Linked DNA regions of Homo sapiens. The protein of the gene in region 7 interacts with the protein of the main gene of each other region in a biochemical or structural test. Each region holds a gene or a part of one and is shown on either strand. Other genes may lie near its edges.

The links.
Region 1: the proteins of KHDRBS1 (region 7) and UBASH3B interact in a test that uses a peptide from one of them, tested with the Homo sapiens proteins (one study listed by BioGRID).
Region 2: the proteins of KHDRBS1 (region 7) and DOCK2 interact in a test that uses a peptide from one of them, tested with the Homo sapiens proteins (one study listed by BioGRID).
Region 3: the proteins of KHDRBS1 (region 7) and DNMBP interact in a test that uses a peptide from one of them, tested with the Homo sapiens proteins (one study listed by BioGRID).
Region 4: the proteins of KHDRBS1 (region 7) and MYO7A interact in a test that uses a peptide from one of them, tested with the Homo sapiens proteins (one study listed by BioGRID).
Region 5: the proteins of KHDRBS1 (region 7) and OSTF1 interact in a test that uses a peptide from one of them, tested with the Homo sapiens proteins (one study listed by BioGRID).
Region 6: the proteins of KHDRBS1 (region 7) and ARHGEF9 interact in a test that uses a peptide from one of them, tested with the Homo sapiens proteins (one study listed by BioGRID).

The regions. Positions count from the first base shown.
Region 1 is NC_000011.10:122,777,722-122,781,221, forward strand, and holds part of UBASH3B (ubiquitin-associated and SH3 domain-containing protein B), read left to right. Parts: intron 1-1,775; coding exon 1,776-1,974; intron 1,975-3,500. UniProt on the Homo sapiens protein: Interferes with CBL-mediated down-regulation and degradation of receptor-type tyrosine kinases. Promotes accumulation of activated target receptors, such as T-cell receptors and EGFR, on the cell surface.
Region 2 is NC_000005.10:170,077,775-170,081,274, forward strand, and holds part of DOCK2 (dedicator of cytokinesis protein 2), read left to right. Parts: coding exon 1-63; intron 64-1,200; coding exon 1,201-1,372; intron 1,373-2,388; coding exon 2,389-2,509; intron 2,510-3,500. UniProt on the Homo sapiens protein: Involved in cytoskeletal rearrangements required for lymphocyte migration in response of chemokines. Activates RAC1 and RAC2, but not CDC42, by functioning as a guanine nucleotide exchange factor (GEF), which exchanges bound GDP for free GTP.
Region 3 is NC_000010.11:99,950,948-99,954,447, forward strand, and holds part of DNMBP (dynamin-binding protein), read right to left. Parts: intron 1-3,500. UniProt on the Homo sapiens protein: Plays a critical role as a guanine nucleotide exchange factor (GEF) for CDC42 in several intracellular processes associated with the actin and microtubule cytoskeleton.
Region 4 is NC_000011.10:77,183,746-77,187,245, reverse strand, and holds part of MYO7A (unconventional myosin-VIIa), read right to left. Parts: intron 2,659-3,500; coding exon 2,531-2,658; intron 1-2,530. UniProt on the Homo sapiens protein: Myosins are actin-based motor molecules with ATPase activity. Unconventional myosins serve in intracellular movements. Their highly divergent tails bind to membranous compartments, which are then moved relative to actin filaments.
Region 5 is NC_000009.12:75,140,514-75,144,013, reverse strand, and holds part of OSTF1 (osteoclast-stimulating factor 1), read right to left. Parts: intron 3,181-3,500; coding exon 3,082-3,180; intron 1-3,081.
Region 6 is NC_000023.11:63,652,715-63,656,214, forward strand, and holds part of ARHGEF9 (rho guanine nucleotide exchange factor 9), read right to left. Parts: intron 3,024-3,500; coding exon 2,780-3,023; intron 1-2,779. UniProt on the Homo sapiens protein: Acts as a guanine nucleotide exchange factor (GEF) for CDC42. Promotes formation of GPHN clusters.
Region 7 is NC_000001.11:32,037,868-32,041,122, forward strand, and holds part of KHDRBS1 (KH domain-containing, RNA-binding, signal transduction-associated protein 1), read left to right. Parts: coding exon 1-169; exon of another isoform or gene 170-252; intron 253-684; coding exon 685-752; intron 753-1,647; coding exon 1,648-1,706; intron 1,707-3,255. UniProt on the Homo sapiens protein: Recruited and tyrosine phosphorylated by several receptor systems, for example the T-cell, leptin and insulin receptors. Once phosphorylated, functions as an adapter protein in signal transduction cascades by binding to SH2 and SH3 domain-containing proteins.

The DNA.
Region 1 (3,500 bases), on a different chromosome or scaffold from region 7:
CCAATTTTTGTTGTTGTTGTTGTTTTGAGACAGAGTCTCACTCTGTCACACAGGCTGGAGTGCAGCAGCATGATCTCGGCTCACTGCAACCTCCACCTCTCGAATTCAAGCGATTCTCCTGCCTCAGCCTCCCAAGTGGCTGTGATTACAGGCATATGCCACCATGCCCGGCTAATTTTTGTATTTTTAGTAGAGACGGGGTTTCACCATGTTGGCCAGGCTGGTCTTGAACTCTTCACCTCAAGTGATCCGCCCACCTCAGCCTCCCAAAGTGCTGGGATTATAGGCATGAGCCACCATGCCTGGCCTCTACTGACCAAATATAATCCCCCTCACTATCACACATGTAAATACATTTTGTCTACTTTAGCTCTCTGTGGTAATAGAGAAGAGTTGATTTATCTCCATATATTCAAGACCAAACAAAGTGGTAGCATTTTAAACCATTTTTATAAAAAATATTTTGCTTTCTTCCCCAGATATATTCTCTCTCTTTTTCTCTCTCTCAGGTAATAATAATGTTCCTAACACCTTCTCTTTTACCATTCACTCTGAAAATTAAAGTGACTGTCATTTCCTCTTAGTCATCCCAGGATCTTTCTCAAAACCCTTCAGAGTTTGAGAGACGTTCATTCTTTTTTCCAATGCTCTCAGGAAGGTAGGAGGATGATGTCACAGCTCTCTGGGACTCATTCTTCCCAACTATCATGAGGGTGGATGTAGAGTCAACTTCTGATCATCTAAGAGGAAAAGAAAAGTACAGATGATACAAAATAGTAGAAAACACGCAGCTTCTCCTGGGATGCTGCACTCTCTCCTGTCACATTCCTTCATTTTTTTTTTTTTTTCACAAGCAAGGAGAACTTTGATTTTTTTTTTCTTTTTCTTTTTTTTTTTTATGGATATATAGTCTCTCTCTGTCACTCAGGCTGGAGTGCAGTGGCGTGATCTTGGCTCACTGCAACCTCTGCTTCCCGGGTTCAAGTGATTCTCCTGCCTCAGCCTCCCAAGTAGCTGGGATTATAGGCGTCCGCCACCATGTCTGGCTAATTTTTGTATTTTTAGTAGAGATGGGGTTTCACTATGTTGGTCAGGCTGGTCTCAAACTCCAGTCCTCAAGTGATCTGCCCGCCTCAGCCTCCCAAAGTGCTGGGATTACAGGCATGAGCCACTGCGCCCAGCCTGATTTTTTTCTAATTGATAAAAATTATATACATTTATGGCGTATAACATGATGGTTGAATATATGTATGCATTGTGGAGTGCCTAAATCAAGCTAATTGTACATGCATTACCTCGCATGCTTATCAGGCATTTGTGGTGAGAACACTTAAACTCTACTCTCTTAGTAATTTTCAAGCATATAATATGTTATGATGAACTATAGTCACTGTGCTGTACAATAGGTCTCTTGAACTTATTTCTCCTAAGTGAAGTTTTACGTCCTTTGACCAATATCTCCCCAATCTCGCTCCCCTTTCTTGCTTTCGGCTCAACCAGTCCTGCAGCATTTTGGCTGGGTTCACGGGGGCCACTTCACAGCAAGGAAAGGAGGGAAGAGGTCATGTGTTCCCCACATTAATCCACCAGTTGGGTAATCTGTGTCTGAATAATTGGAAGTCTGCAGTTCCTCTCTCCCCACAGACAGGGGTAGTGGTTAAGTAATTGCATTATCAGCCTCCTCCAGTCTCTGGGGAGAGGATGCCAATGTTAAGTAGCAGCAGACTTCCATCTCCCCTTGTCTCTGAGTGAAGACTGCCTGTTTTCCCTGCCAGTGCGAGGACAGCAAGGTGGATGCCCTGGGGGAAGCCCTGCAGACCACGGTCAGTCGCTGGAAATGTAAGTTCTCGGCCCCGCTGCCCCTGGAGCTCTATACGTCGTCCAACTTCATCGGCCTCTTTGTAAAGGAAGACAGTGCGGAGGTCCTCAAGAAGTTTGCTGCTGACTTTGCTGCAGAGGCTGCATCCAAAACCGGTGAGCAAACAGCTGCCAGGCCAGCCCTGGGCCCTGTCAATCAAAGAGTTGGAAAGGAAAAAGGATAGGAAATAGTGGTAGAGGAGCAGGATGGGGTCAGGAGGTGGAGGACCCTGCAGGAATGGACGTGTGACAAAAAAACAGCCTTTTCCTGCAGCACCCCACGTCTTGCTCCCTTGTAAAAACGTTCAACCCCTCTTCTGCTGACCTGGAGAGACCGTCTAAGGCTTATTCCCTAACACCCAAGTTGAAGTTTCACAAATGACTTCCATACTGAACTAGAAATGTATTTCTTTGTAGCACCACCATCTCCTCCTAATTCAGAATTAAAGAAACATCCTTTCTCCCTCCCAAGCTCCCGCCCATGTAGGTGTTTATCTGGGTCTCATTGTTCACTCCATGACAATCCAGATCTTTTCTCAGTGGGTAGCAGAGGATAGAGAGAAGAGTGGAAGCACTTCGTATTATATCACAATAAAATCCACTGAACCAATACCCTTCAACTTGCTGAAAACCATTAGACAGGACCCCAAGCCCCAAGAGTCTGTCTAAAAATGTAACCCCTTCCAAATGTCTCCTGCTCTTCTCATGGGAGCTCTTAGTTCAGGACACCTGAGATTTCCTGTCAAAGGAATTAGCTTAAGGGGGTGCTCAAGGCAGGAGACACGATGGAGGTGAAAAGAGGGAGAAGTTTGCAAAGCTCTCCTGTCTGACTACAGGTGTGGACAAGCTCACTTAGCTCAATGACAGCAGGGAAACAGACAGACAATCTGGTGGGGGGAGAGCCTCTTGGCTCGCTCCAGCATGAAATCACAATTGGCAGGTACTTACTGGTCACCTACTATGAGGATTTCTCCTACATGAGGAGTGCTACAGGGAAGAGAACAAGAAGTGGTTTCTCCCGGCCAGGCCCTGTGTAACATCAGCTCTGAAAAGAGAAAGGGGTGGTTCTACCTTCACGGAAGGAAGGAAACTTGCCCTGGGACGATGTTGATCAGGACAATGGAGGAAAGGCCTGCAGGCGGGCGGGTGGCAGGAGCACAGGCAGGCAGGCATGAGATGGTGTGAGCAGAGGACAGTGGGGAGGCTGCCCTGACCAGAGTGGATGGTGCAGGATGCACAGTGGAAGCCGAGTGCTGAGTGCAAAGCTGGAGGAGACGTACAATTCCCCTACCCCTAATTTTAGGGAGTGCCAGAGAGGGGGAAGACCTGAGCAAGGCCGCAGTTTGCTCCTTAGCCTTTTGGCCTTTGGCCTATCCCTCACCTGCCATTGTTCCCTGCTGCTATTTTCATCACCATCTCAGGCCCTTTGTTCCATATTCCTCTTTACCAGAAAAGCACCACACAGGACTTGGGACCTATGAGTGGGATCGGGGCTCAGTATCACTGCAGGATCACAGTGCTCTCGGAAGGAACACAAGGACCTTAAGACCCCTCTGTACCTGGGGAGGGGTCCTCTTTAGACTTTGCAACCCCCACCCCCACCTCTTCCTCTCCCTCAGCGACGGGACTAGTCTCCGGGTCCT
Region 2 (3,500 bases), on a different chromosome or scaffold from region 7:
CATCATCTCTCTGGCTTCCATGAATTCTGACTGCAGCACCCCCAGCAAGCCTACCTCAGAGAGGTCAGTCCCTGCACCCCAAGGAGCCCCCCACACCCCTGCCTCCCTGGCTCTATCCCCCCTCCTTCTCTCTCTTCTCCGGCAACATCCCTTCTACCTTTCCCTTCCTCCTTTCAGTTTAAAAGCCTTTTCCCATCTGCAGTCTCACAACTACCCCAGGAGGCTCATGGTTAGTACCATTTTTAGGGGATTATCAGAGGCTCAGAGAGGCAAGGCAGCTTTCCTGAGGACCCAGCAGGAGTCACCTGCAGCCCCCAGACTTCTAGTCCAGTGATCTCTGTCAGCCAGGCAGAGCTCCTCACCAAGCCTGCATCCTTCTGGAATATTGTCACCTCTCATAGGGATCTGTTCCCTTTCAAGGAAGCTCCTCCCAACCACGATGGGATGTCTCCATTGCAGAGCTCTTCCTCCTGCACCACCTACCCACCCCTCTGTCGGGGGTCTTCCCTCCCTTGCCCCTTCCACCTTCCTGGAGCCCTCTGGCCATCATTGTTGGACCCTCCAGAAACTTCCCTGCGGGCCTCAGAGGTTACTCTTGCCCAGAGGGAAAAGGATGGAAACGTCTTCTGTTTCACAGTTCTAGGGGGCATCATTCACAATTCTAGGGGGCACCATTCACCCTGCCCAACTCATCTGTTCTAATCATAGATACATGAGCAACCCAGCACTTACCATATGCCAAGAATATGCCAAGGGTTCCTCAGACATCATCTCATGGCCACTCTGCAAGGTCTCTGCGAAGACCTCCATTTACTGAAAAGGAAATGATGGCTTGAAGAGGTTGAGTGATTTACCCAAAGTTATTCATTCAGCTAAGAACTGGCCGTGCCTGGATTTGAATCCACATTCATGCTTTCAACCAGTCTTCTCTCCTCACCACCAGTTTCTTTTCTATGGCTCACTTCTTTCAATTTCATTTTACCACGAATAAAATAAAGTGAACTTTACTCATCACATTTAACTGTTTGTGCATTGAGCAAGTTGCTCCCCAAATCCTCTGCCAGATTTGCTGATCTACTCCAGACCCTGTAGTGACAGCTCAGGCAGCCCAAAGGTCCCCTTCAGCTTCCTGGGTCCTTGCAAGGCAGTTCTACTGAAGCTCTAACTGCAGTTTCTATTGCTGCCCCTCTGGCCTTTCAGCTTTGACCTGGAATTAGCATCACCCAAGACGCCGAGAGTGGAGCAGGAGGAACCGATCTCCCCGGGGAGCACCCTGCCTGAGGTCAAGCTGCGGAGGTCCAAGAAGAGGACAAAGAGAAGCAGCGTAGTTTTTGCGGATGAGAAAGCAGCTGCAGAGTCGGACCTGAAGCGGGTGAGTGGCTGAGGCAGATTGCCTCTCCAGCGCTGTTAGCACATTTCCACTACATGCTGGGCACAAAACCCAGGGCTTCCAGATATGGGCTTCCTGAAGCCTGCCACTGCGGTGCTATGGGTATTGCAGAGGCGGCACCTGAGGAGCTGAGAGGTGAAGTGCTTACTCGTGCCCAGGCAGCTGGGGTGGCTGGGACATGACAGAGCTGGGAGTTGAGCCCTGACCTTTGCACTTCAGAGCCTGTGTGTATCCTTTCCACCATCACACAGGGCTTTTCCAGGCTGGGGAGAATCCACCTGTTCTCCCACCAAAAGGGAGAGCAGCCCACTTGGTACTGAGCTAGGTGTTTCTATAGCCCCCAGCCCCAGGCCTATTCTAACCACTGATGTCTCAGACCCCTGCAAGCCCCTCCTGTGTGCCAGGAGTCCAGGTGGGGATACAGGGATGAAATCTCACTGTCCTGGCTTTGAGAGTGTTGGTCTTGTAAACTAACGATTATTTAAAAATGAGACTTGGTTTCAGACAGCCCTGGATTCAATCTTAGTTTCCCCCTGGAAAAGAGGTTTGTTGGAAGTGTTCTGGGAACCTGGGAGTGGGAGATGGATTAACTGCCCTGGCAAGGGAGGGGTGCCAAATGAAAGAGCAAGGGGCCAACCAAGATGCCTTAGTGAAGAAAGGGCCCTCCAGAAACTTCCCAGTGGGCCTCGCAGGCTACTCTTGCGTGGATGGATAAGAATGGAAATGTCTTCTGTGTTTGTCGATTCTAGGGGACACCATTTACATGATAGTCTAAATGAATGTCCGCCACCCCCGCCTGTAGTTGTGTAGTGTGCAACCTGTGCAACCATATGTGGCAGGCTGGCATGGAATGGTATAATACAGAATAAATGAACTTGGAGCCAGCTTCATAGAAACCATGCCACGCCCTCCTCACTGATCTTTCAGAGACCCAGATCTGCCTCATGCTAAGCCTCTGTCTTTGTGTGTGTGTGTGTGTGTCTGGTGTATTCCTCCAGCTTTCCAGGAAGCATGAGTTCATGAGTGACACCAACCTCTCGGAGCATGCGGCCATCCCCCTCAAGGCGTCTGTCCTCTCTCAAATGAGCTTTGCCAGCCAGTCCATGCCTACCATCCCAGGTATGCCCCCTGCTGCCACCAGCATGAGGGAGTAGAGATAGTGCAGGCCACCAGCCTTGTGGGTGGAGGATGGATGGGAACTGTGTCTACACAACAAAGTGGGCCAGGCATCCTGGAGTGAGAGGCTCTGCTCATAGCCACCCACCCTCTAATCTCTCCCCACACCCACCACTTCCTGGGGGTGACACCATCCCAGCAAGCTCCAGCAGGGACAGGGGAGAGGCCTGCTGTCCCTTGGGCCCTCAGGATTCACTGAGCATCCATTTGTCACACTAGGTGGCCCCTTGTTCTCAGTTAGCCAGGCCTCCCCAGGGGCCAGAAGTTTGCCCTTGGTATGTCCCTAAGACCTGTGGCTTCTTTGTGGACCTGGAAGACTCTTTCTGGCTTTACAGAAATGGCCACCACATCTTATAGCTGCAAAGTGTTTGGTGCATAGATGCTACCTATCTGCCACCGTCGTCACTCACTCACTGTCCAGTGAGGAGGTTAGAGCACAGCCGATGGTCCTAACTCACAGAAGGGAATCTGAGGCCCTAACAGGGGACATGGCATGCCTGAGAGCACTCCATCTGGTAGGCAGAAGTCCTTGACGTCTGCTGCTATGTGCCTGGCTCTGTGTGCTAAGGGCCAGGTCAGAAGGGAACAAGACAGGACCAGTGCTGCCCTGTGGAACTCAGCAGGCCGATCATGGTGAAGACGCTTGCTGTTTCCTGAACATTGAGGGTGCCAGGCCCTGCGCCAACTGCTACTCCTTCTTTATTTCATTTACTCCACTGCGCATACCCAGGAAGTAGTTCATGTTATCCACCCCATTGTATGGATGAGGAAACTGGGGCACTGAGAACATCACTCTCTTGCCTATCACCAGCCAGCAAATGGCAGAGACTGAGTTCAGACCCAGGCCCTCTTCCCTGGAACAGGCACCTACCCACTGCCCCGCCACCACCCCCAGGATAGCCTGAACACAGCTGCAACATTTGGCCCAAGCCAT
Region 3 (3,500 bases), on a different chromosome or scaffold from region 7:
GGCATGTCAGAGGTCTTCACGGCAACTGCACCCATCACAGGCCCAAAGGCCTAGGAGGAAAGAGTGATTTCCTGGGCTGTGCCCAGGATCACTATGCTGTGTGCAGCCTAGGGACTTGGTGCCCTGTGTCCCAGCTGCTCCAGCCATGGCTGAAAGGGGCCAATGTAGAACTCAGGCCATGGCTTCAGAGGGTGCAAGCCCCAAGCCTTGGCAGCTTCCATGTGGTGTTGAGCCTGCGGGTGCACAGAAGAACTGAGGTTTGGGAACCTCTGCCTCGATTTCAGAGGATGTATGGAAATGCCTGGATGTCCAGGCAGAAGTTTGCTGCAGGTGCAGGGCTCTCATGGAGAACCTCTGCTGGGGCAGTGCAGAAGGAAAATGTGGGGTCAGAGCCTCTACACAGAGTCCCTACTGGGGCACCACCTAGTGGAGCTGTGAGAAGAGGGCCAAAATCTTCCAGACCCCAGAATGGTAGATCCACCAACAGCTTGCACCGTGTGCCTGGAAAAGCTGTAGACACTCAACATCAGCCCGTGAAAGCAGCCAGGAGGGAGGCTGTACCCTGGAGAGCCACAGGGGCAGAGCCGCCCAACACCATGGGAACCCACCTCTTGCATCGGTGTGACCTCGTTGTGAGACATGGAGTCAAAGGAGATCATTTTGGAGCTTTAAGATTTGACTGCCCCACTGGATTTCAGACTTGCGTGGGGCCTGTAGCCCCTTTGTTTTGGCCAATTTCTCCCATTTGGAATGGCTGTATTTACCCAATGCCTGTATCCCCATTGTTTCTAGGAAGTAACTAACTTGCTTTTGATTTTACAGGCTCATAGGCAGAAGGGACTTGCCTTGTCTCAGATGAGACGTCGAACTGTGGACTTTTGAGTTAATGCTGAAATGAGTTAAGACTTTGGGGGACTGTTGGGAAGGCATGATTAGTTTTGAAATGTGACGACATGAGATTTGGGAGGATCCAGGCAGAATGATATGGTTTGGCTGTGTCCCCACTCCAAACTCATCTTGAATTCCTATGTGTTGTGGGAGGGAGCCGGTGGGAGATAATTGAATCATGGGGGCAGGTCTTTCCTGTGCTGCTCTCGTGAGAGTGAGTAAGTCTCATGAGATCTGATGGTTTTGAAAAATGGGAGTCTCCCTACACAAACTCTCTCTTTGCCTGCTATCATCCATGTAAGACGTGACTTGCTCCTCCTTGCCTTCCACCATGATTGTGAGGCCTCCCCAACCATGTGGAATTGTAAGTCCATTAAACCTCTTCATTTTGTAAATTGCCCAGTATCTGGTATCTTCATCAGCAGTGTGAAAATGGACTAATACAATATCTAATGCAAGAATTGTTTACAGGTTTATCTTGAAACTTGTAGGTATAGAAAGTGATGGAGAATCTGGAGTTTGCTAGGGCTTTGGGAATGTAACACTCAGCCAAGGTTCCCTCAGAATTCTTTTTCAGGGACTCTGAAATCAAGGTATCTGGCATTCCCCTGAGAGCTCAAGTACTCATATTAAATGAACACCTTTTTGAGGACTTGTCTAAGCATCTACTTCATGCTGTAGCTTGAGGGTAAATGCTCCTGCTGTTCAGTACAAGCAACCCAGCGGCCTGGCTCCCTAGCTATCCCCTAATCAATTACACTGAATGTGCTCTAGGACCCCTCCTACCGCACCATCTCTTAGTCTGCAGTTCCCTTAGAACTCTGCCCACATGCATAATAGTCCTTTCCTAAGAATATTTTGAATAGAGGTTTCCCTCTCTTTCTGCTATATCATCTTTCAGAAGATTACTTGATTTCCAATAATACTCTTTTTTATTGGAATTTTTTTATTCTATTATTTCCATTCACTTTTATAGACCTAAAGTAGAAAGGGAGGGAGGTAGCTATATGTGCTCAGTCTGCCATCTTGATCCAGGATCTCTGGATCACCATTCTGCTTTTATCTCTTATTAGTATCCTGCTATTCCTAGACCCCCTGGGTTGCTTTCTATTATTGACTTTCCTGATGACACATAAGTTCAAATCTCTGGTACACAAGCCAAAAGTGACATGTATTCACGTTCTTGGGCCCTAGACCAATTGCTGTTGGTTGCCTACCTCTTGTACTCTTCCTATTTATAAATTTTTTCTCCTGTGAGTCTGGTGAATATGAATGAAGTCTCCAGAGGCTTATCATTCCCAAATTAAGGGAAATAATTTGAATTTTCAGTGTGCCAGTATAGGAAGCGGTGAACTATAGTTGTTAGAAACATAAGCTTAAATCCCAACTCCCTTGGCAAGTCACTTAATCTCTTTTCAAATTTAATTTAAAACTTTTTTTTTTTTTAAGAGACAGGTCTCTCTATGTTGCCCAGGCTGCTCTTGAACTCCTGGGCTCTAGTGATCCTCCTACGTCGGCCTCCCAAAGTGCTGGTATTACAGGCTTGAGCCTACTCAATATCTATGTCTTAGTTTCCTCATCTATAGAGTAGCCATATGAATTATCATTGTACCTTTAGGGTAGCTGTGAACATTCTTCCTGTAGGCAAATTCTAACACATGCTTACTAATATGGTAATAAATGTTAGCTATTACTATTATTAAAATCTACTCCCTTGGCCAGGCATGGTATCCCAGCACTTTGGGAGGCCAAGGTGGGTGGATCACTCGAGGTCAGGAGTTTGAGACCAGCCTGGGCAATGTGACAAAACCCCATCTCTGCTAAAAATAGAAAAATTAGCCAGGCGTGGTGGCATGCACCTGTAATCTCAGCTATTCAGGAGGCTGAGGCATGAGATCACTTGAACCCGGGAGGCACAGGTTGCAGTGAGCCAAGATCTCACCACTACAGCCTGGGTGACAGAGTAAGACTCTGTCTCAAAAAAAAAAAGAAAAAAAAGAAATCTACTCTCTGGACAGCAAAGATACAAGATGGAGTTTTCTCATGAGTCTTTCTTAACCTGGAAGTCTTTAGTGCTTAATGGAGCCTGATTAAAGAAAGTTCTACTTAGGGACTTCCCATCTGCACCACTGCTATGGATGCCATAGCAGAATAAGAGACATAAATGTCCCAGAGGTATATGTGTCTCCGAGGTATGAGATTCTTTTTTTTTTTGGAGACAGGGTCTCACTCTGTTGCCCAAGCTGGAGAGCAGTGGCATGATCATTGCTCACAGCAACCTCTGCCTCCCAGGTTCAAGCAATCCTCCCACCTCAGCCTCCCGAGTAGCTGGGACTACTGGGATATACCACCACTCCTGGCTAATTATTTTTTGTATTTTTTTGTAGAAGCAGGGTTTGGCCCTGTTGCCCAGGCTGGTCTCAAACTCCTGGGCTCAAGCAATCCACCCACCGCAGCCTTCCGAAGTGCTGGGATCACAGGTGTGAGCCACCGCACCCGGCAAGGTTTGAGATTCTTTATCTGAGCAGCAAATGAAGTCAGGAGGCTACAGCAGTCATAGGCTCAAAACAGAGTCAGAGGCTCAAGACAGCCTATCTAGGGTGATGAAATAA
Region 4 (3,500 bases), on a different chromosome or scaffold from region 7:
GCTCACTTCCCGTTTCTGTCACATTTTGGCAATACTAGAAATATCTCAAACTTTATTATTATATTTGCTGTGATCTGTGATCACTAATCTTTAACGTTACTATTGTAATTGTTTTGTGCACCATGAATCGTGCCCATAGAATATGGCAAACCTAACTGATAAATGTTAGATGTGTTCTGACTGCTCTACCAACCAGCCATTCCCCCATCTCACTCCCTCTCCTCACGCCTCCTGATTCCCTGAGACACATTCATATTGAAATTAGGCCAATTAATAACCCTAAAATGGCCTCTAAGTGTTCAAGTGAAAGGAAGCGTCGCACATTTTTCACTTTTAATCAAAAGCTAGAAATGATTAGAGAGGAAAGCATGTTGAAAGCCGAGATAGACCAAAAGCTGGGCCTCTTGTGCAAAGCAGTTAACCAACTTGTGAATGCAAAGGAATAGTTCCTGAAGGACATCAAAAATGCTACTCCAGTGAACATGCAAATGATAGGAAAGTGAAACAGCCTTATTTGCTGATATGGAGAAAATTTTAGGGGTCTGAATAGATCAAACCAGCCACAACATTCCCTTAAGCCAAAGCCTAATCTAGAGGAAGACTGTCTCTTCAATTCTATGAAGGCTGAGAGAGGTAAGGAAGTTGCAGAAGGTAAGTTGGAGGCTCACAGAGATCGCCTCATGAGGTTCAAAGCAAGAAGCTGTCTCCAAAATATAAAAGTGCAAGGTGAAGCAACAAGTGCTGGTGGAGAAGCTGCAACAAGTTTTCCAGAAGGTCTAGCTAGAATCATTGATGAAGGTGATTACACTCAACAGCAGATTTTCCATGTAGATGAACCAGCCTTCTATTGGAAGAAGATGTCATCTAGGACTTTCATAGCTAGAGAGAAGTCAATGGCTGGCTTCAAGGCTTCAAAAGACAGGCTGACTCTCCTGTCAGGAGCTAATGCACTGCTGACTTTCAATTGAAGCCAATGCTCAGTGACCATTCCAAAAATTCTGGGGCTCTTAAAAATTATGTACAAGAGGCTGGCTGCAGGGGCTTACACCTGGAATCCCAGCATTTTGGGAGGCTGAGGTGGGTGGATCACAGGGTCAGGAGTTCAAGACCAGCCTGGCAACATGGTGAAACCCCGTCTCTACTAAAAATACAAAAATTAGCTGGATGTGGTGGTGGGCACCTGTAGTCCCAGCCACTCGGGAGGCTGAGGCAGGAGAATTGCTTGAACCCGGGAGGCAGAGGTTGCAGTGAGCTGAGATGGCGCCACTGCACTCCAGCCTGGGCAACAGAGTGAGACTCTGTCTCCAAAAAAAAAAAAAAAAATGATGTACAAGGAGACGAATGTTATTTTCATGCCTGCTAATGCAACATCCATTCTGCAACCTATGGATCAAGGAGTAATTTTGGCTTTCAAGTCTTATTTAAGAAATACATTTTATAAGACTATTGCTGCCATAGATAGTGATTCCTCTGGTGGATCTGGGCAAAATCAATGGAAAAGCTTCTGGAAAGTATTCACTATTCTCAGTGCCATTCAGAACATTCATGATTCGTAGAAGGAGGTCAAATTATTAACATCAATAGGAGTTTAGAAGAAGTGGATTCCAAACTTCATGAATGACTGAGGGGCTCAAGACTTCAAGAGGAAGTAACTGCAGATGTGGTGGAAATAAATAGCAAGAGAACTAGAATGAGAAGTGGGGCCTGAGGATGGAACTGAGTTGCTGCAATGTCATGATCAAATTTCAGTGGATGAGGAGTTGCCTCTTATGGAGGAGCAAAGAAAGTGGTTTCTTGAGATGGAATCTATTGGTGAAGATGCTGTGAACATTGTTGAAATGACAACAAAGGATTTAGAATATTGCATCAACTTAATTGATAAAGCAGCAGCAGGGTTTGAGAGGATCGACTCCAATTTTGAAAGAAGTTCTACTGTGGGTAAAATGCTGTCAAACAGCATTGCATGCTACAGAGAAATTTTGTGTGAAAGCAAATCTCACTGTTGTCTTATCTTAATAAATTGTCGCAGCCACCTCGACCTTCAGCAACCACCACTCTGATCAGTCAGCAGCCATCAACATCAAGGCAAGACCCTCCAGCAAATAGATACAACTTTCAGATGACCATTAGCATTTTTGGCATTAATTTCTAATCAAGATGTCTACATTTTTTAGACATAATGCTATTTCATACTTCATAGACTATAGTATAGTATAAATATGACTTTTATATGCACTGGGAAACCAAAATATTTCTGCAGCTCTCTTTATTGTGATATTTATTTCTGTGGCCTTCAACTGAACCTGCAATATCTCCAAGGGATGCCTGTTTTAGGATTCCCCCTTTACAGACAAGGAATCAGAGGCTTAGAAAGATGAAATAACTCCACCAAGGTCCTAACTCCACCAACTAGCTAGCAGCGAAGCCAAACCCAGGCCTGCTTGGCTTAATCTCTTGCTAGGTTGACAGAGGCACCACTCAGCCACCAAAAGACTTTCAGGCCCTGGTGTCCCCGCCTCCCGGCACTGACCGGAGTGCTGGCCGCAGGATGCCATTGCCGATGATGAAGTGCAGCTTCTCCAGGTTGGAGGTGGGCCGGTCCTCCAGCATGCTGTTGCCCTGCACTGTGGACTCCCCGTCATGCAGCCTCTTGGTCACCTGGGCCAGAGGGAGAGGACAGGGCAGGTAAAGTTAGGGGTGTTCCCCTGCCAGCCAGGGCACCAGCACCCGAGGCTGCCTGCTCCCCAGAAAACAGAATCTAAGGAGTGAGCAGAAGAACTGGGCTCCCCATCACTGTCATTACCCCTGCCACGTGCACAGCAGATGCTGGGCCAATAACTGGCCCACACAGCAGGGGCACACTGGCCCGGTGCCACCCACTTCTGGGGACAGAGCTCCTCTGGCCACCTCCTCGATACCCTGCACCCCACACCCCACCCCAGGGAGGTCCTCTCAGCCAGGACAGGGACATGATCCTCTGACTCCAAGCGGGACCCCTATCTCTCTGGGGTGCCCCCGCCAACATAACTGTGGCACCTGGAGTATACTCCAGGTTCCAACCACCAGTCACCACCACTCTGTCACCAACACCCTTAGCCCCGATGTGACCAGCCTCACACCAGTTCTTATGAGATGTTTCTCCTCTCTCATCCCACACAGCCCACAGCACAAGCCCCGAGCTCTGCCCAGAGGATGTAGGGTGAGTGAGAGGCGAGCGGCAGGAGTGGGTGGTGCAGACAGGGAGCACCACTGAACACCCTCGGCTGCCATTTCTGCCTTCTTCCCAGGACCCCACGGAGTGGGCATTTTCTTCCCTGGGTCCCTTGAATACTAAGCGGCAGAGGTGGGATTCAAATCTGAGGCCACACACCTGCAAGGCTGGATTTGTGCCTCAGGTGGGGACAGGACAAGGGCAGAGGTGAAGTGGGAGCCCCTGACTCTGCAGTGGAGGAGCTGGGGAGGCTTCCTGGAGGAGGTGACCCCAGGCAGAGAAAGGAGGA
Region 5 (3,500 bases), on a different chromosome or scaffold from region 7:
TGGATGGTTACTTCTGCTCTTTATTTTATTCTTACTTCTATTAAAAAGAGAGGATGATTTGCCACAGTGCAGACTCTGACTGAGTGGTCATCAAAAGACAGGCACAAGTCAGCAAATAAATTCCTTCTCCTTCTTTCCTTTCATGAACTGTTCTGAGGCAGTTTTCCCACATGGTCAGGTGTTGTGTGATGAGCCTGTATCTCTTCACAGCCCACCTCTGGGCATAGCACGCATAGGAATGTATCTTCCTGCAGCACTGCCATCCTTCCCTAGCTCACGTTCATTTTACCTCAGTCCCATCACCCTGGCTTTACATATCTCAAATCAAGAACCAGCACTTAAAACCAACCAACAAACATACAAACAATAAATAAATGATGGAGAAATAAACACAGGCATATGGATGACTCTCACAGACATAATGTAAATGAAAGAGGTCAGTCACAAAAAGTACATACTGTTTGATTCCATTTACATAAAGTTCACGAACGGGCAGAACTAATCTATGGTGAGAGAAGCAGAAGACACTGAGGGAGGCATGTGGCGTGTGGGAACTGTTCTCTAGCTTCATCTGGGTTGTGGTGAACAGGTGTAAAAAAAATTAATCAAGCTGTATGCTTAAGATTTATGTACTTACTTAATGTAAATTATACACAAATTTTTAAAAGTTGGAAAAAAATGTTAAAGGGCTCAACTCGAGTATAACCCCCAGCCCTATATCCTAGTTATCTTCCATAGTAACTGCAAAATGTGAATTTTTGTACTTATTAAAAAATCCACATTGTGCTTCTAAAAGTAGACAACAACTACCTTGGGAGGCCAAGGCAGGCAGATCGCTTGAGGTCAGGAGTTCGAGACCAGCCTGGACAAAAAAGGTGAAACCCCATCTCTGATAAAAATACAAAAATTAGCCGGGCATCGTGGCTCATGCCTGTAATCCCAGCTACTCAGGAGGCTGAGGCAGGAGAATCACTTGAGCCCGGGAGGCGGAGGTTGCAGTGAACTGAGATTGTGTCACTTCACTCCAGCCTGGGCAACAGAGTGAGACTCTGTCTCAAAAAAAAAAAAAAAGTGGACAACAATATCAGAATATACCTTTTCCAACTTAGAGTTCATGCTGACAATTAACTCTATGGCCAAATAGTCCAAACCTATTCCAATGAGGATCACAATACAAATTAACTGTATAATTGGGGAAATGAAGCAAGAAAAAACATTTTAAAAGTAACATGAAAATTGAAATATAAAAACTCATTTCTTGGCTCTGTCTGCCAGGCCCTAAGATTACCTCATTAATGAATCTATTACCTAATCAGTTCAAATTCAGGAAGGTAGACTAAACACACTTGGGGTGCACAGAGAAAAGAGTACCTGCCTCCCAGCCCTGTTCTACGAAGGCTGCAGAAAGGCTCATTACCTGCCTCCCTCAACTCAAACCACTCCTGAGTAAGGCTTCTGGGTAAGCTCTCTGAGGTCTAAGAAAGTTTGGTATATGCCTTGTCTATCAAAATGGAGCTCATAGCATGCATTAGACTCTGATACCTTCAGGTCATAAGAAGCCTTACTCTTCGGTCAGGACAGGCTAAGGGTAGCCACACAACAGGAAGTCAGTGGCAGAGAAAGGAAGTTAGGCCAGACTCCTACTTCCTGACCCAATCAAGGCAGCAAGGAGTAGGAGGTCGAACTCAAGCAGAAGTATGTCTCTCACACTATTGCAAATATGGCTTCTCAATCATAATGTAGCTGGGGAGCACCAGCTCAGCTGATACTTTCCCATTCCCTTAGTAGAACCCATCTCCATCTATCCATGAGGAATTACTTTAAAGAAAGGCTTGCACTCCCAGTGAGCTCTCATGGATTAATTAAGGAATACCAACTGATTAGCAGTTACACTATATTCAAACTGAAGTTAAAAAAAGAAAAGAAATCTGGAACAAAGACATATCTAGAATAAAGAACAAAAGGAGGCTGGGCACAGCGGCTCTCGCCTGTAATCCCAGTGCTTTGGGAGGCTGAGGCAGGAGGATGGCTTGAGTCCATGAGTTCGAGACCAACCTGGACAACATGGCAAGACCCCTATCTCTACATTAAAAAAAAAATTAGCTGGGCATGATGACACATGCCTGTAGTCCCATTTTCTCAGGAAGCTGAGATGGGAGGATCACGTGAGCCTAGGAGTTTGAGGCTGCAGTGAGCTATGATTGCACACCTGCACTCCAGGCTGAGCAACAGAGTAAGACTCCATCTAAAAAAATAATAATAATGTACATTTAAACTCTATTTTAAAAAACCACCCATAATACTATGAATAAAGTCCAGAAGATTTAGCAAAGTCTAGAATAAATTTGATTACAGTTTACTGATATCCTCATTTAAAACAGAAATAAAATATAATCATGGAGCTATTAAATGTTATTTTTAAAAATATTTAGTGGTAATCACTCATAAATACATATTTAAATGAGGGAATGAAGATGATCGTTCTCTGAAAAGGACTGTAATGGAAAGCAGGGTGATTAGAACTTAATTGCAAGGAATAAAAGAAACACACAATAAAGGTAAAAGATTATGTTTCTTGTCTAATTTCTGTTTAATTGAGGGTGTCCTATTTTGGGGGTTCTCATTAAGATCAAGGATATTGAAACAAACTTCAGAATCATCTGAAGAGTTTATCTTTTTTTTTTTTTTTTTTTTTTTTTTTGGTTTTCTTTTTTTGAGATATGGTCTTGCTCTCACCCAGGCTGGAATGCAGTGGTGCGATCACAGCTCACTGCAGCCTCAACCTCCCAGGGCTCAAGTGATCCCCCAGCTCAGCCTCCTGAGTAGCTGGGACTACAGGCCCACACCACAATGTCTGACTAATTTTTGGTACTTTTTGTAGAGACAGAGGTCTCACTTTATTGCTCAGGCTGGTCTCCAACTCCTGGGCTCAAGTGAACCTCCTGCCTTGGCCTCCCAAAGTGCTGGGATTACAGGTATAAGCCACTGCACTCAGCTGAGTTTATCTCTTTTGCGCCATTCTAAGTTAATAAATCTTAGTTATGGGGCACCAGAGGAGAAAGAAGAATTTAAAACAAATACCTGTTCCCTGTTTCTTTTTCAGGAGAGATGCACAGGCAGCATTGGTAGCCATGTCGAAGGCCAGCTTCTTCTCAATGTTTCTTAAGTCTGTTCTAGCACCTTCCCAACACAAGAAAAGTCAATTAGGTGTCTTTGAAGACTATATAGTAGTAGCCAATCCTCTCTCCCCACAGCTAACAACTTTTGGCAAAATAAACTAGTGAACAACTCTGGCTCAGAAGTAAACGTTCTCAAAACAATAAACTTTCTCATGCAGTATAATTTGGCATCTTTAATCGGGAAGCTTGTTGCTGCACCTGTGATAACAATTAATTCCGAACCTTTTGAGTCCCTATAGAATTGCATGTGAACTTTTCAGTGAGGAGTTTATGGTCCCTGTGGGGCTTGACTTCAATGAGCCCTTTGCTTCCTCTTTTGCT
Region 6 (3,500 bases), on a different chromosome or scaffold from region 7:
GATATAATCAAAGCCCCTGATACGGTTTGGCTCTGTGTCCCCACCCAAATCTCATGTGGAATGGTAATCCCCATGTGTTGGGGGAGGGGCCTAGTGGGAGGTGATTGGATCATGGGGGGAATTTCTCCCATGCTGTTCTCATGATAGTGGGTGAGTTCTCACGAGATCTGATGGTTTAAAAGTATGTGGCACTTCCCTCTTGCTCTCTCTCTCTCCTGCCACTATGTGAAGAAGATGCTTGCTTCCCCTTTGCCTTCTACTATGATTCTAAATTTCCTGAGGCCTCCCAGTGATGCTTCCTGTTAAGCCTGCAGAACTGTGAGTCAATTAAACCTCTTTTCTTCATAAATTACCCAGTCTCAGGTATTTATAGCACTGTGAACATGGGCTAATACAGGCCCTAATCAGTTGACTTTATATAAGGGACAATATCCTAGATAATCTGGATGGACCTGACTGAATCTGTTGCAAGACCTTAAAAGTAGAGCCTAGGTCTCACACAGAAAGGGCAGAAATTCTACCTGTGCACCACAGCTTTAGCCCATGTCTGTGCCACTTCATCCTTCTCATGAGCTTCTCTTCCTGACTGCCTGTAGATGACAGCTTTGGCCTATGTCCATGGGTTTGAGCCTGCCTGTGATCCTCCATTTCTGACTGCCTGCTCTATGGAATTCTGAGCCACTTAGTCAACATTCACAATCACATAAGCCAATTCCTTGTAATGCAATTTTCAGCAGTGGTATGATATATCTCCTACAGGTTATGCCTCTTTGGTTGAACCCTAACTGATACAAGGGGTTATAGTTAGATTCTATATTATTTATCTGGGGAGTTACTTATGATAAATTAAGTTTAAAAAAGCAACCTACAAGGTAATATATATAATATAATTTTTGTAAATATAAAAGTATTATGTTTGTATATGTTTATATGGACATGAGATAAGTATGGAAAGATGCATACTGCACTGTTAACACTGGTTATTTCATTCAGTATGGAAGTGACAGAGAAGGGGAAGGAATGCTAAGTTTTCTTTATATATTTCCATATTTGTTTAAATGGTTATAATGGTCATGCATTAATTTTATAATTAAAAAGTAAAAGTTTAAAAAAGCTATGATAAAACTATATGACCCTCATAAAATAATGATTAAAAATATGAAGTGATCTGATAGAAATGCTAATGATATAATGATGAGTGAAAATGAGGATACAAAATTATATCTATCCACTATAGAGAGGCAGGTATGGGGAGAGAAAGAAAAAAGATTCAGTCACCTTGATTTTTCTAATTAGACACATAAAAAAGGCTGGAAATATATATCAAAATGTTTATGAAAGTTATTACTGAGTATGTTCATGTGTTTTTTTTTTTTCTTGTACTTTTCTGTTGCTTTTTCCCTAAATTTCCTACAATGGAAGTGATTTACTGTTATTATCAAACCAAAAAAAAAAAACCTCAACATTTTTAAAGATGAACATATGCCTGTTCAGAAAGTAATTTCTAGAAGCTTTTCTATTAGAAGCAGATAAAGTCACAGGTTTATTAGGGCATTGTGTGGGAGACATTGTGTTAGAGCCAATGGGAATGGCAGGGGCCTTCTAATTGATTCAGGGTCTGAACACTAAGACCATTCCTTTAATAACTCTAACAGCCTAGGCAAGGTCAGTGGCTGCTGCTGCTTGCTATTGAGAGAAGTAGCCAGCAACATTTATATGCCACTCCACATCATGTCCCAATGGAGTGTCCACATACTGAAAGCAGTCTGATTCCAATGAGACTCAAAGTGAGTTATTAATTTGCACTCTACCCAAGTTCTGAGGAGAAGACTGGAGTTAGATTTGTCTTTCTGACCATCCTTTCTTACCTCTGGATAATTTCAATCGCCCACATGGAAGGATAAGAGAACCCTTTTGCACCAGGATTCAATGAGTAGGCCCATTTTTCTAGAGACAATTTCCATAAACTTGAGCTTTCAGGCCTTCTAAAGTACAATTTCACTCCCATAAGCAATAGGGCAAAGACAGAAACTGTATGTCTTCTCAGGGAATTAACAAGTCTGGTTGCTTGGTATTTTTTATGACAGAAAGGCAGGACCATGAGCAAGAGACCAGACAGTACTTTATAAGTCACAAAGCTATAGCCAATGGCGTCTAAATCCCACAGTTGGGAAGCAACATGAAAAATATCTCTACTATCTATATCCCCACTGGAAAAGAGAAACAACTTATTGTAAGGCAAAAAAGTATGTTTCAGTGTGATTTGAAATCATGAAAATGGTCATGGTTTTAAGTCCTGTTATATTTTCTATAATTTACTTTAAATACTTCCACACAGAAAGTGTGAAGTGTATGTGCATATTATTTGAATCTACAGTCTAGGGGGATTTAGTTAACATCTGAAGTATCCTAATCAGGAGTACAAACTATATACCTAATGACAGAGAGCTCAGGCTTTATGAAGATTACAGAACAGGTTGTATAACTGATTTTTGTTTATTTGCTAATAAATGTATGTTTGGGAGAATCAAGCCTGAGGCTGGCTTTCAGTGTGATATTCTTAGCTAGTAGGGGAGGACAACCTATAGTTCAAACCTACCACTGACTAATGGAAGCTATTGGTACTTACCAAAAAGAACCTAATAATAAGGAACCACCAAAGTAGCTTAAGTCAGTTTGCAACAGAAATCTTCCCTCTGACTCCAAGAAAATGGAAACCAATTCAAACCTCCTATGTTCTTCATAGCCATGTTCTTCTTTCTACTCTCAGGTCACTTACCAATTTTTTCATCTTCCTGTACCATTTTCCTCTCTTCTCTGAAAGCCCTGAGCCAGCGTATTTTTTCCTCCAGCTTCTTGGCAAAGAACAGATGTATCTCCTCAGTCTCCTTGTTGTGAAGCTTAAAGGCATTCTTCATGCTGACATTGAAGTCATCATCTCTGCCATCCTCAATGTCAACTACCTCATATTTATCCATGTCAATGCGGCCTTTGTAGTACAGGATGTCTCTCCGGATTAGGTCCTAGATGGGAAGGAAGAGGTTTCTTGAAGGTATGTGCACGGCGAGTACTAGAAGAGTTGGCACAGGGGCACAGCAGAATGCTAACACTGTCACCGTTTTGAAGTACCAATGGGGGTTGGTTTGTTCTAAATTTGGCCAGGTTATACTAGTAGTCTGACACTGACAGGTTGGTTAACTAGATGCCCAAAGAAAAAGCCTCTGTCTCACCTCGAAAGATCATTTCAGACACCAGAATCAATCCTTGGACGTGTGTGCAAGTCTGCTGATGGGAGGTAGGAAACAGTAAGCCACATAAACACGGCTAGCAAGGGCTTCTCCTTTTCGAAAACATCAGCAAGCCCACTAGAGGTATGAAATGAGCTGGCTGGTTGCCTGGAGTGTGTTCAAATATCTGTGCAGGCCAGTGAGACCTGAACATCAGAGGGGGACTGAGTAGTAAGAGTAGCTAGGAGGCCACAGACTGCTGGCAAAGGATTA
Region 7 (3,255 bases):
GGTACGTGGTACACCAGTAAGGGGAGCCATCACCAGAGGTGCCACTGTGACTCGAGGCGTGCCACCCCCACCTACTGTGAGGGGTGCTCCAGCACCAAGAGCACGGACAGCGGGCATCCAGAGGATACCTTTGCCTCCACCTCCTGCACCAGAAACATATGAAGAATATGTAAGAAATTTGAACAATGTGCCATTTCCCAGTACCTAGAAGGCTGCTAAAGGAAGTTGAATGACAGGGCCTCGGTCCTTTATGTAGGTGTCATGGACTGCCTGTAAGATTTGCAATCTGCCCTCTTCTCTTGCAGTGAATGTTGAACTATTAGAAGATTTTTCCATTTTAGGCAGGGTTTTACTATACGCCTGTAGATTAAACAAGAAATAAAATGTACTTTAATGTAGTATTTTATAATGAATTTCTTACTACTAGTACTGATAATACTAAAGCTCGATTTTGTACTTTACTTCCTGCCCACACTTCTTCTGTGGCATATCATATTTGTTTGGGTTTTCTTTGTTTAGTAACCCTTTCTCTTTTGACTATTCTACAGTAGGCATTAACATTTTGGAGGGAAATGTCATGTCCTTTTAATTCAGAAGCCTACTTACTCCCATGGGATGTAATTACCTTTCCTACTCTCTATGATTTTGATCTTTTATTTCATTTTTTTGTTGTTGTTGTTCTAGGGATATGATGATACATACGCAGAACAAAGTTACGAAGGCTACGAAGGCTATTACAGCCAGAGTCAAGGGTGAGTCAGGCAGTATAAGCACTGTTTTTTGTCCTGAGGATGGATGGAGGGAGTTGGAGGAACAGAGAGATTTAGACAGTACAACCCTAAGGAGCAGAATGGTTCGCCTTTTGAGGGTATCTCCTCTGCAACCCCCACAGTCCTGACTGGTCTTGAACTCTTGAGCTCAAGCAGTCCTCCCACTTTAGCTCTCTCTAGTAGCTGGGGTTACAGGTGCGTGCCACCATGCAATGCTTTCCTCTGCGTTTGACATCTGTGAAGCACACACTTGGATTTGTAAATCTGGATAACTGTGAACCTTAAATTATAATTTAGAACCTGAGAGTAACAAATGAAAAATTTCCAAGCTGTGACTACATGGAAACAAGGAGAAATGCCTTTATGTTATTTTGATTTATTATTTTAAAATATCAAAACCACATTAAAGCTCCATAAAATTTTACAAGAAACTTGAATTCCATTACCATAACTTAGGTTCTTTTCTGCATTTCTCTTTAAGACCATTTCCTTGTGTGTCCATATATATAGCTTACCTGTGAATTGATTGAAAAAGAGTTCCAGAATTCTACAGCAGTGATAAAACAGTTCTTTTTTCCTTCTGGTGAGCCCTATGAATACATGTATATATATGCTATATTAAAAGGGTCAATTTAGGATTGTGCTTTTTCACTTTATATTCTGTGGTATCCATTTTTCTTTGCAATAGTTGTCAATTATTTTATAAGTACATAGTCTATACATATTTTGGAAATACTTTACGGTTTAGGGATGGGGCAGAATGAGTATTTTCCTGTATTAATACACTTAGTAAAATGACTGACTTATGGAAGTATTTGAGAGAAAGTTGAAACATAGTTACTCTGTAGCTTCCTAACACTCTGCCTTTGGCTTTCAGGGACTCAGAATATTATGACTATGGACATGGGGAGGTTCAAGATTCTTATGAAGCTTATGGTATGTCTTTATCTCTGTGGTGGGGCAGAATGTACAAGTAAGTGCCTGGGAGAATGCTGGTGACTAAAGTATTGAGAGTCAGACAAACACACCTACGGATAAACCTTTAGAAGGCCAAGATTTTGCTAGATGTGACAGTAAGAGTTCTGCTCTTGCTTAAATTTTGCGGTACATGGTAGAAAGAGGGACTGCTAAAGTGAGGTGGGGTATCGTTACTCTTGGAAGGGTAGTGTTTGTCTTAAACAAGGGCTCAAGACCAGCTTGGCCCTGGTTGGAGCAGCAGACTTATAAGCTAATGTTATTTTTTTTCTACTTTAGGCAGGGAAATAGCTAGACCTGGGTTGTATTTCTGGGCCTTTGCTGCCGATATCTAGGCCACTTTGGTAGATAACAAGAACTTAATCGTACACAACTGTACTCATCTACCCCATTTCATTAAAAAAAAAATTTAGATCTCATTGAAAAGAATGTCATTGTAAAGGAAATGTCAGCTGAAAGGGACCTAGATGGCAAGCAGCTAGCCAGACCAGGTTGCGGGGCAAGAATAGTGCCTATTAGGGCCGGGCGTGGTGGCTCATGCCTGTAATCCCAACACTTTGCGAGGCCGAGGCAGGCGGATCACCTGTGGTCAGGAGTTCGAGACCAGCCTGGCCAAGATGGTGAAACCCTGTCTCTACTAAAAATACAAAAAAATTAGCCAGGTGTGGTGGTGGGCGCCTTTAATCTCAGCTACTTGGGAGGCTGAGGCATGAGAATCACTTGAACCTGGGAGGCGGAGGTTGCAACGAGCTGAGACCGTGCCATTGCACTCCAGCCTGGGCAACAAAAGTCCGTCTCAAAAAAAAAAAATAGTGCCTATTAGAATCAGATTAGAGGCTGTAGGGGCTAGAGCCAATAATTCAGGACAGTACTGGCACCAAGCTCCTTGTTGGCTTGAAGACATCAACACAGTCCTTGATCCCAAGAGAGCTATGGAGGCTGCAACAGCAGCAGGACAAGGCTGCCTTCCCTGAGGTTTGGTTAAAAACACATCGCTCAAGTGTGTCCTCAAGAGCCAGTTATGGCCCTGTGTTAATAGGCCTCACTGGGAATACTATGTGGCAGTGGATGCAGCGAGAGCTACCTTTTCAGTATAAGGTATTTTCAGCATACCTGAGGGACTTCCAGAGAGTCCTTGGCAGGGGCTCAGCGATTGACAGTTCACGCTAAGATACTGGTTGACAGTCTCCCCTTATCCCTAGCTGAAAAAGAGGAGCCCCTTAGGGCCTCCCAGAGACAGACAAGCTGAGCCCAACTCAGCACAGTATGAAGTAGCCAATCAGCTGCTTGCCCAAGGAAACTGTTTTTACCAGTTTTAGCGAAATAGCACTGGACAGTTGCCAATCACTAACACTGTGTGTGATTGCACCCAAGTATTTCCCTCCATCAGTGAGGCAGTACAGTGGGGCCTCTGTATGTGTTTGACTAAATTGCATTTCTGTTTTGCTGGAGAAAAGACCAAACTGAAAGAGGCAGGCTTCTCTTTGTGCTCCTGATACGACGTTGCCAC